Regions from separate parts of the Homo sapiens genome. Here regions 2 and 3 are each linked to region 1. The links come from fine-mapping of genetic effects on gene expression. A gene starts in region 1. Each other region holds a variant in brackets. All regions are shown on one strand. Distances are between the middles of the regions. Region 1 holds the start of PGGHG (protein-glucosylgalactosylhydroxylysine glucosidase). Region 2 overlaps PSMD13 (proteasome 26S subunit, non-ATPase 13). Region 3 has its middle 22 kb from the start of B4GALNT4.

The links. PIP is the estimated chance that this variant, and not a neighbour inherited with it, causes the effect.
Region 2: its variant is fine-mapped to the expression of PGGHG in monocytes (BLUEPRINT, PIP 0.94).
Region 3: its variant is fine-mapped to the expression of PGGHG in aorta (GTEx, PIP 0.96).

Annotation. Positions count from the first base shown.
Region 1 is chr11:286,203-291,374 of GRCh38, reverse strand. It overlaps PGGHG (protein-glucosylgalactosylhydroxylysine glucosidase), which reads right to left and starts at 2,249. Exons shown (of 14, transcript NM_025092.5): 1 at 2,136-2,249; 2 at 1,300-1,571; 3 at 775-985; 4 at 262-697. The coding sequence starts at 1,558. RefSeq lists silencers at 2,060-2,119, 2,130-2,659 and enhancers at 2,543-3,072, 3,073-3,602.
Region 2 is chr11:252,958-258,204 of GRCh38, reverse strand. PSMD13 (proteasome 26S subunit, non-ATPase 13) reads right to left here. Exons shown (of 13, transcript NM_002817.4): 13 at 5,221-5,247. It also overlaps the pseudogene COX8BP. Among named protein-coding and RNA genes, the nearest start is that of PSMD13, 19 kb to the right of the region's middle. RefSeq lists an enhancer at 137-637. The variant GTCCGTCCA/A (reference allele first, on the strand shown) is at 1,986.
Region 3 is chr11:344,449-349,695 of GRCh38, reverse strand. No RefSeq gene overlaps it. Among named protein-coding and RNA genes, the nearest start is that of B4GALNT4, 22 kb to the left of the region's middle. The variant CTGGCTAGCT/T (reference allele first, on the strand shown) is at 1,964.

The DNA of each region.
Region 1 (5,172 bases):
TGCAGCCCTTCTCGCCTTGGTGGAGGCCCCTCCCCACGCTCTGGAAAGTGCCTCAGGCCCTCTCAGCTCTGGTCTCTGCACCTTCCATTCCCCTCACCTAGATCACTCCTCTACCAAACTCCTGCACACCTTCCAGGCCTCTTCCCTTTTGCCACAGTCCCTGTGCTTCCCCAACCATAGCCCTGGTCCCAGGGAGGGCAGAGACCGTGGACCTCCATGTGTCGCCTGCTGTGTGGCTGGTGCTGGGTGTACAGTGCTCACCTGGTCCCAGAAGACGTGGCCCCAGTAGCATTCCTCACGGCTCCCATTGGAGAGGCCCCCAGGACTGAGGCCATGGCAGATGTATCCTGGGGCCTTGGGCTGGGGCAGGGCACTGAGCAGGTAGTAGAGGGAGCCACGCAGGGCCTGGCGCAGCTGCAGGGGCCCCACCACGTCCAAGCCACATTCTACCCAGAGCTGGGCCCAGGCCTGTGCGTGAGCCGTATACAGAGCTCCCCTGGCCTGCAGCTGCAGGGCCTCAGTGAGGCAGGCCTGAGCCTCAGCCTGGCTGCCGCCCACTGCTGTCAGGAAGTCCCACGTCCTAGCCTCCTCACCTTCCCCAAGGGTCAGGTCTGGGGGTGCTGGTGTCCACAGCATGTGTACCTCTTGCTGTGGCCCCCCGGGCTGCTCAGGGGTGAGGGTGTGGCCATACAGGTACCTGTGAGAGCGTGGCCATGCCTCAGGGATGAGCTCCCTCCCTGGACTCCCTGGCTGCAAATCCAGCCCCCTCCTTACCGGGCTCCCTGGAAGTCAGGACCCTGATGCAGGTCCAGGTCTGGGCTTTCTGGGGAGAAGGCTGACCGCAGGAGCAGCGTGATGGGCCCGCTCCCCGGGGCCAGGCGGGCGATGGACACTCGGAAAGCCAGCACGTGGGGCAGCGTGCGATGCGCATAGATGCACTGGGAGGCCCGGAAGCGGGGGCCCTCCAGGGTGTGAAGAAAGGAGCCTGGGGAGGCAGAAGCGAAGGCAGGTGGGTTGCCAAGCTATGGCCTCTCTGGGGCAGGAGTGGACCACCCGACCGCTGCCTCTCCCCACAATGAGGCGGATCCCTCTGGGCCCTCGGCTGCTCGTTCCCGCTACAGCTGCACAGGAGGCCTCCAGGTGGAGGGAAGGGGGGACCCTGCGGGCCTCTGGGGCCTCCTGTCTTAGTGAGACTTCCTGTGTAAACTCAGGAGGTGCTGGTGGGATTCGATGCTGTGGTTGCCCCACCGACCTGGAACAATGCCTGGGGCAGGGGTGAGGCAGGCCAGGTGGCGCTACCTGTGTTGGTGTCCAGGGCGAAGGTCTCGGTCAGCTGCTCCCCCATCCCTGCAGGGGCCTCCAGCCGGACGTTGAGGGGGCTGGGCAGCATGGCCCGGTGCGTGTCCCCGCCAGCCCCATTGTACACGCCGCTCACGTGCAGCGTGTCGTGAAACACTCGTGTGCCCAGGTATGCGTTGGTCACAGTGGCCAAGAGACGGGGGTCACTGGGCAGAGAGTGGGCAGCAAACGTGGTGGGGTCCTCGCCGGCGTCCTCCATGGAGCTGCTGGGCCTGAGCGGCCTGATGGGGTGTCAGGGGCCGCGGGACTGGCTGGGCCTCCCTCTTGAGACCGTCTGTAATCCCCTGAAGCCTCCCTCAGAACTGGGGGGAGTTGCGGAACCAGCTGGGCAGCCCCGATTTTCCTGAGGCCCCTCCTAGACGGGGCCTCGCAGGAAAGGAGCTCGACTCTCAGAGGGGCTCAGACCCCAAAGGTTGATCTCCAGGAACCCAGCTGAGCCCCTGAGTGTGTCTCTCCCTCCTGCTACCTTAGAATTCCAGTCCTAACCCTGCTTTCCAAACGCACCCCCCACAACCCCGGTCTTGCCCCCACCCTCTGTGGTCGGGACCTGCGTCTGTTGGTGGCACGTGGGGGCGGGCGTGTGTGGAGGGTGGGGGGAGCGCTGGGCGGGATGGGGGAGGGAGTCCGGGGCTGCCGGGGCGCCGGGCGGGTGGGGGTCTCGGGGGTGTAGGCGGCTGGGGCAGGCGCGGGTGGGGGAGGGAGGATGGGGCGACCGGGGGCTGGGGGGACGGGCCGGGGCGGCCGGGAGCTGCGGGGCGGGGGCCTCTGGGACTCACCGCAGCCCCACCCGGTCGCCGGGCGCCAGCGTGGGAACCTGTGTCCCTCTGCTCCACGCCAGGGCCGGGAGGAAGGAGGAGCCGCCCGGCTGCCGCGCCACCAGGAAGGTCCGCGGTCCCCGCCCCGAGGGCCCGGGCGGTCGCTGGGAGGCGGGGGCGGTCCCTGGGCGGCGGGGGCGGTCGCTGGGCCGGGCCCGGGGGCGGGACGTGGACTCGCGGCCGCGGCCCCGGCTCCCCTCGGTCCCCGCTGGCAGCGGCCGCGTGGGTCGCGTCCGGGGGCCTGGCGTTCCCTGCACGAAGCGCCCTGAGTGAGCAAAGCTCGAGCCTGGACCCCGAGCTGCGTCCCGGGGCGGCTGTGGGTGGGGCCCGCGGGCCGGGGGTTCCCTCCCGCGCCTCCTCCCTCCGCCCGCGCCCCCGGCCGCCTCCACCTGGGTCCTCGCCTCGCTGTCGCCCGAGGGCTCGGGGGCGCTCCGAGGCCAGCGAGACTCCAGCCCCAGCCGGCGCCCGGGTTCTCGACACCGTCCGGAGAAAGAACTCGGGGTCGGGTCAGAAGGAAGCGAGAGGCTGGAAGCGAAGCGAAGGCACAGACCCGCCGCGCTCGGCGGAGCTTGGGTTTCCTCCCTGGGGGGCGGAATGATCTTTAGGGATTCTGGAAACGAAGGGGACTTCAGGGAACCCCGGCCCCCGCCGCGCCTGCCCCTTCTCCCTTATTGGGCGTTTTGCCGGGAAGGCTCATGGACGTCTCACTCGCACGGGTGTTTGGCCGTTTTCTCGCTCTCGTTTTGGGTTTTCTGTTAAACTGCGGTCCCTTTGCCTCGGTCCTGGTGCAGCTGCTGCTTGGGTTTTCCATCCTCCTGAGACCACCGGTGCAATTCCCAATTCCCATCTCAACGCCACCGCCCACCCGGACGCCGCTGGGCTCAGCCCTGGGCCCGCTCGTCCCGGTATCTCACGCTCCCTGACCCGGCCTCAATGTCCTGACCACTCGGTGCAGCCGGAGACGCCGGGGTCCAGCACGTGCTCGGAAGCCTGCTGCTCCCACAGGGTCCCCAGCACAGGTGAGGACGACTCCGCCCGTCCCGCTGCCCAGGCCGTGAGCCCCGGTTTCTCTCTGTCACCCACACAGCATCCAACCTATGGACAGGTCCTGTGGCTCCACCTCCAACACGCCGTGGGCCCACACCTCCTCCTGGAGTGGCTCAGTCGCTCCCAACTTACGCCTTTGTTGAGAACAGAACCCCCACAACATTTAAGGCAGGCCCTGCACTCTGCCCAGAAGGCAGCCATGGCGCCCAACTCACGGAGGACGATCCAAAAGCGCTCCTCACGCAAGCTCCACCCGGCGCAAACCCCCTCCTGCAACTGCCTGGGTTCCCTGACCTCATCTCCTCCCCCTCCCCTACTCCGCTGCGGCTACCTGGCTTCCTTGCTGCTTCTGGAACTTTCCAAGCACGCAAGCTCCACCCGCAAACCCCCTCCTGCACCTGCCTTGGTTCCCTGACCTCATCTCCTCCCCGTCCCCTACTCCGCTGCGGCTACCTGGCTTCCTTGCTGCTTCTGGAACTTTCCAAGCACGCAAGCTCCACCCGCAAACCCCCTCCTGCACCTTCCTGGGTTCCCTGACCTCATCTCCTCCCCCTCCCCTACTCCGCTGCGGCTACCTGGCTTCCTTGCTGCTTCTGGAACTTTCCAAGCACGCAAGCTCCACCCGCAAACCCCCTCCTGCACCTGCCTGGGTTCCCTGACCTCATCTCCTCCCCATCCCCTACTCCGCTGCGGCTACCTGGCTTCCTTGCTGCTTCTGGAGCTTTCCAAGCACGCAAGCTCCACCCGCAAACCCCTTCCTGCACCTGCCTGGGTTCCCTGACCTCATCTCCTCCCCCTCCCCTACTCCGCTGTCGCTACCTGGCTTCCTTGCTGCTTCTGGAGCTTTCCAAGCTCCCCGCCTGGCTTGCTCTGGCAGCATAATTGCCTGAAGCCCTTTTTCTCAAGACCTCTTTGGGGCTTGCCCCCTCACTCCTTCGGGTTTTCAAATGCCCAGTCGTCAGTTAGACTTCCTCAGACCCCCGTTTCATGCAACAGGAAACCCTGCGCTCCATCCATTCCCACCAGCCCCTGGTTCTGCCTAACTTTCCTCCGCAGCATTTATCCGCCCCGCCTCTGAATCTTTATTACATTGTTACTTGTTGATGCATCATAGGCCTTTTTTTTTTTTTTTTTTTTTTTTTTAGAAAGACTCTCGCTCTGTCGCCCAGGCTGGAGTGCAGTGGCGCGATCTTGGCTCACTGCAAGCTCCACCTCCCGGGTTCGTGCCATTCTCCTGCCTCAGCCTCCAGAGTAGCTGGGACTACAGCGCCCGCCACCACGCCCGGCTAATTTTTTTGTATTTTTAGTAGAGACGGGGTTTCACCGTGTGAGCCAGGATGATCTCGAACTCCTGACCTCGTGATCCACCCGCCTCGGCCTCCCAAAGTGCTGGGATTACAGGCTTGAGCCACCGCGCCCGGCCACATCACAGGCCTATTGATTGTGGTGTGTAGTTATGTATCAGATACACATTTATTTATTACTTATTAGCGATGGGGTCTCTCTCTGTGGCCCAGGCCAGAGTGTGGTGGCAAAATCATATTAGGTTGGTGCAAAAGTAATTGCGGTTTTTGCTTACTTTCCAACCAACCTAATAGCTCACTGCATCCTCGAACTCCTAAGCTCAAGCCTCGAACTCTTGCCTCAGCCTCCTGAGTATCTGGGACCACAGGCATGCGCCACCACACCTGGCACACGTATACATATAATATACGTACTTGTGCTATTGCGTTGTGTATCACATATGTGTTGTGTATGTATCGTATATATATTTATTGTATTACACTGTGTATCATATAGGTGTTTGTCTTCTTACCTAGAATGTCAGCTCTAGGAGGACAGGGGTTTTTGTGTTTTGTGAAATGAAGAAATGGAGTTAGAAAGTGGATTATAGTAGGGGATTTCCCCTGGGCAGTGATGGGGCTGAATCCAGAGTCTCCCCCCACCTCCC
Region 2 (5,247 bases), 33 kb after region 1:
GGTGCGTTAGGGGTATGTCCAGGGCAAGCTTGATAGGTATGTGCTGAGTGGCTGAAGAAGGTGAGGGTGAAGATTCAGGTAACAGGACTACTTTTGTCCATCCACGGCCTTGAGCGCACCTTCCGATGCTGCCCCTGTCCAGGATGAGCCAGGATGGGCCAGGACGGGCCAGGATGAGCCAAGATGAGCCAGGATGGGCCAGGACGAGCCAGGATGAGCCAGGACGGGCCAGGATGAGCCAAGATGAGCCAGGATGGGCCAGGATGAGCCAGGATGGGCCAGGATGGGCCAGGATGGGCCAGGATGAGCCAAGATGAGCCAGGATGAGCCAGGATGGGCCAGGATGAGTCTGGAACCCTGAGCCTGCAACCCTGAATGCTCTTCAAGTCTCAGTTTCCCCAGCTGTTACGTGGGGCCTTAATCTCCATCCTGCAGCCCCACTTGGCCACCTTCTCTTTCTCTCTGGGTCACATCATTTTCTTTCTATTAAAGGGCAGACCTGGGGGTGGCGGGGAAGAGGGTCCAGGCCTCAGGATGATGACAGGAGAGGCCATCTGGGGCAGCCTTGCTGTGGGTGGGGGACTCAGGATCTTTAACCACAGGGTTTGGTTTGAACAAGTGGTTCAAACTGGGGACTAAAAACAAGGCTAGGATAAAGACCAAAGCTCACTTCTGCTTTTGTGGGGCCCCAGAAGTAGAAGCTGCGTGAGTGTGAAGTGAGGAGGACAGGTTTGTGCTTGGAAAGGTCAGAAAGGTCGGAAGACCGGTGAGTGGGCAGGTGGGAAGAGGTTGAAGGCTGTGGACGGCGTGGCCATCTGGGCTTGAGGGAGGCCGACAAAACCTCTCTCTCCTGGAGGGCAGTGTTTCCTCCTGGCATCGCTGCTCCCACCCCTGCCAGCTCCCTCCTCTCAGCCTTCATCGGGGGCATCACCCACCCAAGGCTGGGCTGGCTGGGGGCTTGTTTGGAAGCCTAACGTCCTGAAGCACAGTGGGCCTCTCCACTGCCCACCCACACACGCCACCTGCACCCCCCACTCCACTGAAGCCCAAAAAGGGCAGAGGTGGAGGCCTCCCTCGGGGGCAAGCCTGGGTGGTGGTGCAGCTAGTTCTTATCTGTAAAAGACAAAACACCATAGCCTGGGAGACTGATCCTTTGAACACGCACTCAGGTCCACAGCCTTATCCAGAACTGGACCCCAAAGCTATAATTAAAGGTTCAGGCGGAAGGGATTATTACAGAGGAGGGGCAGAGCCCCCCACTGCCTGAGGCTGGTATCAGGAGCCCAGCACTGCTGGAGATAACATTCAGGACACCCTTCTTCCTCTGGCCTCACAGGACTTGGCTCCTGCTTGAGAAACCAAGTCAGATGAAGACTGGCCAGGGACCCGGAAGGTGGGGTGGAAAGCCTAGGAAGTAGTCTCACATTTAGGACAAATGTGGTTTCTGGGGAAGAACAAAAGTAAAATCATGTTCCTAGTGAAATTTGCTCGTATCACCAATTTACCATTTCAAAACAAACAGATAGGGGCGTGATTGTCCATAGTGAGGGTGATGACCACAGCCAAGCCTGGAGGTACAGACAATGACCATGGATAAATCTGGGGGCCTAGGTGGGGTCAGATGTCCTACTGCTTCTACTGGCTCCTGGGCTTGGACTCAGCTGTGGCCTTTTTCATTGTCAGTGATAATACTGTGGGTCATTCTGAAGGAGAAGTGTAATCCCCACAGTTGTCTCTCATGTCTGACTTGGCTTTGTATCCTTCAAATCTAGCCCAGTGCCCAGCATACAATAGAAACTCCATCCATCCTTATAACAACTCCTCCAATCATCCATCCACCCACCCACCTACCCACCCATCCATCCACCCACCCATCCATCCATCCACCCATCCACTCATCCACCCATTGACTCATCCATCCACCCACCGACCCATGTATCCATCCATCCGTCCGTCCGTCCGTCCGTCCGTCCGTCCGTCCGTCC[GTCCGTCCA/A]TGCATCTATCCATCCACTTATCCACTCATCTATCCATCCACCCATCCACACATCCATCCATTATGGATCCCTGCATCCATCCACCCATCCACTCCTCCCACCCACCCATCTGCCCATCCATCCATCCATCCGTGCATCTGTCCGTCCACCTATTCATAAACTCATCCATCCACCCACCATCCATCCATCCATCCATCCATCCATCCATCCATCCATCCATCCATGCATCCATGCATCCATCCACTCATCTGTTGTCCATCCACTCACCCATCCACCCATCCATTCATCCATCCATATATCCATATGCCCATCTGTCCATCCATCCATGTAACATTGACTGAAAAAGTCTGCTAAACCAGACACTGCTCCAGGCTCCAAAGATTCAGTGGTGAACACAACGGAGTCTCTGCCCTCATGGGACTTACATTCCAGCTTCAAAAACAGAGAGTAAACAAGATATATCTAAGGAGATGTCATTTGAGCAAAGCCTAAATGATCTAAAGAAACAAGTAAAAACCTGAGGGAAAGGCTGTCCAGACAAAGGCGCCAGTGAAGGGTGGGAGTGCCCTGTGTCTGGGATGTGTTTGGATTATAATCCTGAAAGACACACTCCTGAGTCTTGAAATCCTGAAAGATCAAAATATCTAAAGTGTAAAATCTCTAATATTTAAAATTCCAAAAATCACAATCACAGGAATCATAGAAATTTTTAAAAAGTAGCGCCACTTAGAAAATGAATTTGAATGTATTCTCCAAGGAAAGCCATGTCCTAAAAGAAAAAAAAAACAGCTATTCATTGTGATGCAAGACTTCAGAATATAGTTAATGGGGTCGTGGAAGTTTGCCAGCTCTTACAGAATATCTCTGCATAGTTGCCCATAATCTACTGTAATATGACTTACACAGAAAATTCGACATATATGGCTTTTTCAAGTTGAATTTTCTGTATAGTTTTTTTAGCTTTTTTCATCATCATAAATTGTCAGCATTATTTTTTTACAGTTCACTATGCTCTCATTTTATCCTTGCATCATTTCAATACTGAAGATATAAATTAGAACACTTATACAGTGTTCTAATTTGTTTTAGGCATTTTTTGCAAAACTGACTCCACAGAAGTGCATTACCACAATGTTGTCTGTGTGTGTAGGTAAAAATGGGATATTTCCTCAATAAATGAAGAGATGTCCTTTTTGTACATCTGCATTTGTGAAAAATTTCTCTAGATCTTGGTTTTTTTGGTGACTGGCTATGTGGTGGTGAACTGTTGCGGTTCTAGATTGAGCCTGTTAGAAGGCGTAGGTTGTTCATCCTGGCTTTTCGGAAGACTGCAGTTATGAACCTGGGCGCACGCAATTCCCACCCGAGCGGTAGGTGTTCATGCATTTCCCCTCTCAACACATTTCTTTACGAATACAGCTCATCTGTGCATAACTGTCATTGGTATGACTGTTTACACTTGCAGAAACATGGATATTATTATTGTCTATTTTATTGTGTGAAGTGGCCTATGATGTGTTCTGTCATATGTCATGTTTTTATGTTTCTCAAATAAATCCCCTTTAAAAATGTAAATAGATGGCCAGGCGTGGTGGCTCATGCCTGTAACCCCAGCACTTTGGGAGGCTGAGGCGGGCGGATCACCTGAGGTCAGGAGTTTGAGACCAGCCTGACCAACATGGAGAAACCCCATCTCTACTAAAAATACAAAATTAGCCAGGTGTGGTGGCAGGCGCCTGTAATCCCAGCTACTCAGAGGGCTGAGGCAGAATTGTTTGAACCCAGGAGGTAGAGGTTGCAGTGAGCGGAGATGGTGCCATTGCACTCCAGCCTGGGCAACAAGAGTGAAACTCCGTCTCAAAAATAAAAAAATGAAAAAAAAGTAAATAAATATCTTTTAAATAATTTTAAAATTATTTTTTCCAGAAATATATTTTCAGAATTTTGATTTTTCGGGATTTCAGCATGCAGAATTGTGTCTCTCTGGGCTGTGATCAGCTCATGTCTGGGATGAGGCAGGAGCCTTGGTGGGGTGCAGGGAGAGCAGATGAGGGTAGGAGCAGGACCAGCAAGGCAGGCAGTGGTCAGAGCACTCAGGCCTTGGGGGTGAGTGAAGCCTGTTGGAGGATGCTGAGCAGCGGCAGCAACAAGACCTGATTGTTCTGGAAGACTGTCTGGGCTGCTGTGTGGAGGAGCGGTTATGGAGGACAGGTTTGAGGCTGGACTTAGGGAGGGTGGGGAGTCAGCGGGCTCGATGTACACATGAGTGTCTGAGGGAAATGGAGGCTCACACTAAGACATTTGGCCTGAGCAGCTGAGAGGGGCTGCGGAAGGTTGAAGGGTGCACCACAGGGCCTTGGGAACTTGACAGTGAGGTGGGTATAAAGGCTAGTGGTCAATAGATCCCAGCAATTGTGACTGACGAGGAACAGCTGGGGTGTCAGGCCATCTGGACCAGGGCCAAACGAGGTCTGGAGAGGGTGGGTGGAAAGACCGAGAGGGGTCTGGGGCCATGAGGTCAGGCGAGGCCTGGACGAGGTGGAAAAAACCAGGAGCTCAGACACCAGCAACCAAAGAGGAAAAGGCTGGAGAAGATGCCGGACAACTGTTCTTTGCCAGCCTAGCAGACTTGTGGGTGCTTTCCTCCAACAGGAGCAGGCCGTGGGGCTCTCACATTCATCAGCTTCCTGGTTCCTGGAGGCTGGGTCTCACCCGACCTGGAGAGCTGCAAGAGCTCCATGCTGTCACTGCAGGCCCAGGACTGAAAGATCACATTAAACTGTCCTTCCACCTAATGTTCACTCTGTGATTCTTTGTGTACGTGCACCTCCACTCCCAGACGGGGAACCTCAAGGTGGTTTCCTTTACATGCCCAGTCCCAGGGATGGCTCATGTCCGCACTGGGGCACACCAGGTCACAGATGCTGGTGGCTATTTGAATGATGAGTGGTGACAAGGATGTGGATGGATGCCTGTGTCGGGGCAGGTACCTGAGAGGGCTGGAGAAGGGAGTGGATACCCCTAGGTCTCTCTTGACTAACAATAAAGATAGGACCAGCGTCTTCGTTAGTCCTTGGTGCTGGATTCTGCCCGTCTACTGTATGTGCAGGGAGGAGAAGGGCCAAGGCTACCCCCACCGTGTCTTCCCAAGGTTCCAACTCATGCTTTTTAACCTCCAGGCACAGGCTTGGCCTGGAAGCTAAGCCCAAGAAAACAGAGCCACAAGAAGAACAAAGCAGAGGGGTTTATTATA
Region 3 (5,247 bases), 58 kb before region 1:
GTGTGTGGTGTTTGTGTGTGGTGTGTGTGTGGTGTGTGTGTGTGGGGGGTGTGTGTTGTGTGTGTGGGGTGTGTGTGGTATGTGTGGTGTGTGTGTGTGAGGTGTGTGTGTGCGTGTGGTGTGTGTGTGGTGTGTGTGTGGTGTGTGTGGGGGTGTGTGTGTTGTGTGTGTGTGTGTGTGTGTGTGTGTGTAAACTGGACGAGGCTTCCCTCTGGTCCGTCATGTCCTTGGGACCTTGGCCTTGTAACCACGTGGCCGTACTTTCTCTTGGTTTCTGCCATCATAATGGCGGCCCGGGTTCAGGGTTCAATTCCCAGCTTAGGGGATGGGTCTTTAACTTCTGTTTGTCTGTGTTTTTGTACATGTTGTGTGTGGAATATAAAAGAGCTTTAATTAATTGGTTTAATAATAAGAGCTTAAATAAAAAATTTTGTCAGAAAAGTTAAAAGTGCAATGCTTTTTAGTTCATGTGACTTAAATAATCTTTGGGAAATAAAGACAGTTTTAAAGATTATTGGTAAAATAGAAATAGCTTCAAAAATTTAAAAATTTGGTCCAAATAATGCATGTCAGATATTAAGTTCACTAAATGCAAACAACACAACTGATGAGACTAGAATTTAATAACACATGTACCATAGTTCTTGAAATATAACTTTTTTCTCTCTAGTTTCCTATTTTTACTAAAGACAAATCATGGTATGACCAATTTGCTTTATTACACTTGGCCTGATTATTTGTATAAAGGGCAGCAAGAATAATTATTTTTTAGATAAGCTTTTTTTTTAAATTGGCTTTGATGGAACTCTGTTCCATAGAAGGAATCTTAGATAAGACTTTTTTAGAGCTGAGCCCTGCCATGGATTTCTGCCCTCAAATATCTGTGAGTTGAGTAAATTCCTCTCCTCTTGGGGTCCCAAGATAACCTGGGGCTCCTAGACCTTTTAGAAAGTGACATTCTTAGCCAGGCACTGTGGCTCACACCTGTAATCCAAGCACTTTGGGAGGCCGAGGTGGGCGGATCACTTGAGGTCAGGAGTTTGAGACCAGCCCGGCCAACGTGGTGAAACCCCGTCTCTACTAAAAATACAAAAATTAGCCAAGCGTGATGGTGCATGCCTATAATCGCAGCTACTTGGGAGGCTGAGGCAAGAGAATCGCTTGAACAAGGGAGGCGGAGGTTGTGGTGAGCCGAGATTGCGCCACTGCACTCCAGCCTGGGCAACAGAGACTCCATCTCCAAAAAAAAAAGAAAGAAAGTGACATTTCTTACTTATTACAGATCAGAAACCTTGTCCGGGGACTGAGCAGGCAAGGTGTGAGGCTAGTTTCCCAAGGGCTTTTATTGACTTTACAAGTCAAATTTCATTCCTTAAAAGAAAGCACACCATTCCAGTCAAAGCCTTGGTAAAATAACCAATTTCTCCAATTGTGTCCTGTTGCAAAAGAAAATAGATTCTTATTGCACTTATGCAAATAACTATATTGCCATAAATTAAGAATATAAATAGTTTCCAAATCAGGCAGATAGAAACAGATACGCTCCGAATTTTGTTTACAGAAGTATACTTTACTCATTTGCTAAAAGCTGTAAATAGCTCAACAGAAAAATTTTCTTGACTCTGAAAAACAAAAGATCAGCAACCTTTTCAACAAAGTTAAAAAGATTACTTCAGACTTCTTTTTTTTTTGAGACAGAATCTCATTCTGTCTAGGCTGGAGTGCAGTGGTGCGATCTTGGCTCACCGCAACCTCCATCTCCCGGGGTTCACGCCATTCTCTTGCCTCAGCCTCCTGAGTAGCTGGGACTACAGGTGAGCACCACCATGCCCGGCTAATTTTTGTATTTTTAGTAGAGACGGGGTTTCACCATGTTGGCCAGGATGGTCTCGAACTCCTGACCTCATGATCTGCCTGCCTCGGCCTCCCAAAGTGCTGGGATTACAGGTGTGAGCCACTGCGC[CTGGCTAGCT/T]TCAGACTTCTTTAGTCTATGCAGTTAACTCCTGTTTGATATTCATGAACATTTTAGCTCTCCAAGAGAGTCCTAAAGTTTTTCCCTCTTTTCTAATGTCACAATCTCCAAAGTTATTAGAAACCTGCATTTGAGGGCCGGGCACGGTGGCTCACGTCTGTAATCCCAACACTTTGGGAAGCTGAGGCAGGTGAATCACCTGAGGTCAGGTGTTCGAAAACAGCCTGGCCAACATGGTGACATCCTGTCTCTACTAGTAACACACAAAAATTAGCCAGGTGTGGTGGTGCATGCCTGTAATCCCAGCTACTGGGGAGGCTGAGGCAGGAGAATCAGTTGAACCTGGGAGGCAGAGGTTGCAGTGAGCCAAAATTGTGCCACTGCACTTCAGTTTGGGTGACAGAGCAAGACTCTGTCAAAAAAAAAAAAAAACCCACCAAAACAAAGAAACCTGCATTTGAGTGCACCTGGTAAAGTTTTGTTTTGTTTTGTTTTTGTTTTTTTTGAGATGGAGTCTTGCTCTGTCACCCAGGCTGGAGTGCAGTGGCTCACTGCAAGCTCCGCCTCCCGGGTTCACGCCATTCTCCTGCCTCAGCCTCCCGAGTAGCTGGGACCACGGGCACCTGCCACCATGCCCGGCTAATTTTTTGTATTTTTAGTAGAAATGGGGTTTCACCATGTTAGCCAGGATGGTCTCGATCTCCTGACCTCGTGATCTGCCCACCTTGGCCTCCCAAAGTGCTGGGATTACAGGTGTGAGCCACCGCGCCAAACATCATTTCTGTGTTATTATTATTTTTGAGACAGGGTCTCTTTCAGTCACCCAAGCTGGAGGGCAATGGCATGATCATGGCTAACTGCAGCCTCCACCTGTTGGGCTCAAGTGATCCTCCTGCCTCAGCCTACTGAGTCGCTTGGACTGCAGGCATGCACCACCACATTTGGCTATTTAAAAATTCTTTTGTAGAGATGGGGTCTTGCTATGTTGCCCAGGCTGGTCTTAAACTCCTGCGCTCAAGTGATTCTCTTGCCTCAGCCTCCCAAATTGTTGGGATTACAGGCATGAGCCACTGTGCCCAGCCCATTTCTGCAGTATTACTGCCAAAAAGGCATAACCTCGTTCCAAAATGGAAAAACATCAAACAAACACAAACTGAGTGATATTCTACAAGATAACTGGTGGATAGTCTATAAAAGTGTTCAGATCATGAAATACAAGGAAAAACTGAAGAACTGTCCCAGGCTGCAGGAGGCTGGGAGAAGTAACAATGAAATGCAAAATGGAACAGAACAGAAGAGGACATTAGTGAAAAAACCGTGAAATTTGAATAAGGTCTTTATTGAACAGCACTGTGCCAATGTTAATTTCCCACTTTTGGTAATTATATTACAGTCATGTAAGATGCTGTCAGTGGTGGGAGCTGGGTGAGGGAGGTACAGAAGCTCTCTGTACTGTTCTTGCAACTTTTCAGTAAGTCCTAAATTGTTTCAAAATAAAAAGTTAGAGAAAAAATCAATATTAAGTACCTGGAAAGAAATAATACAAAAGGTGGACTAACAAAGTGGCACATGACTGAGCGCAGGTCCTACAGCCGACCTTCCCGGCACAGATCGCTACCCTGTTGCTGTGTTTCAGCTGTGTGAGATTGGGCAGATTGCCTAACCTCTCTCTGTGTCTCCATTTTGCCTTCTGAAAAATTGGGCCAATAACAGCACCTATGTCAGCAGGTTGTTACGAGTGTTCAATATATATATGTAAAGCACTTAGTACCATGCTTGGTACAGGTTAAGCACTTAGAAAGTGATAGCTTTGGCCGGGCACGGTGGCTCACGCCTGTAATCCTAGCATTTTGGGAGGCGGAGGCAGGCAGATCACCTGAGATCAGGAGTTTGAGACCAGCCTGGCCAATATGGCGAAGCTCTGTCTCTAGTAAAAATACAAAAATTAGCCAGGCATGGTGGCGGGCACCTGTAGTCCCAGCTACTTGAGAGGTTGAGGCAGGAGAATCGTTTGAACCTGGGAGGCGGAGCTTGCAGTGGGCGGAGATCACGCCACTGCACTCCAGCATGGGTGACAGAGTGAGACTCCATCTCAAAAAAAAAAAAAAGAAAGAAAGAAAGTGACAGCCTTTCCCCCACCGAACAGATTGTGATAGAAGGAGTGCTGGCTTTTATAGTATTATGACGGCCAGAATTATAAAAAGGCAATGGACCCAACTGAAGAGTGGACATTGCGTCGCCAGCTCCGTTGAGAATGGTGCTAGGAATTATCGTGGAAGAATAAAGAAAGGGCACATGCAACACGGAGCTGAGAGGAGGGAAAGAGAGAGGGGTGCATACCTGTCACTATTCCATGTTCTAGAAGGGGGAGCCAAAAGCAGTGGGAGAAAGAAATACCCGAATAAATAATACAGCTAACATTCCCAGAATTGAGGAAAGATGAAGGGCTTCAGACCGAAAGGCTGCAAAGAGGTGAGATAAGAAATAACCTACATTTTCATGTACCACAGTGAAACTGAAGAGTATCAAAGAAAAAGTTCCAGAAAGAGAAAGTTCCAGAAAGAAAAAATAGGTCTCCTACAATGAAACAGGAATTAGATTGATACCCGATTTCTCAGAAAATTATGTTGAAATAATTAATTGGGAGGCCATTAGATTGAGGACGCTCCCAGTGCCCTGAGTTCTTAGATAAGGTAACTGAAACCCAACTCAGCATGAATGGCTGGATCCTAACATGACTTCAAACTAGACACAATCATTAGATACCATGAAAACGCAGCTTCAAACTAAGGACTTTGAAGCTACTGCTTTAATTTAACCAATCAATTTTTTGTTTATTTGTTTGTTTGTTTGTTTGAGACAGAGTCTTGCTCTGTCACCCAGGCTGGAGTGCAGTGGCACGATCTTGGCTCACTGCAACCTCTGCCTCCCGGGTTCACGCCATTCTCCTGCCTCAGCCTCCTGAGTAGCTGGGACTACAGGCGCCCACCACCACACCCGGCTATTTTTTTTGTGTGTGTGTTTTTTGTAGAGACGGGGTTTCACTGTGTTAGCCAGGATGGTCTCGATCTCCTGACCTCGTGATCCGCCCGCCTCGACCTCCCAAAGTGCTGGGATTACAGGCATGAGCCCCCGCGCCGGGCCCAATTTTTTTTTATAAATTTTGCTTCCATGTGTACCTTGTAAATGTTTTCCGGGAGCCCTGAATGACTTGCAGTTTGGAGCTGCCCAATTCATGAATTGCTGTTTGCTAAAATAGACCCTAAAATTTTTTA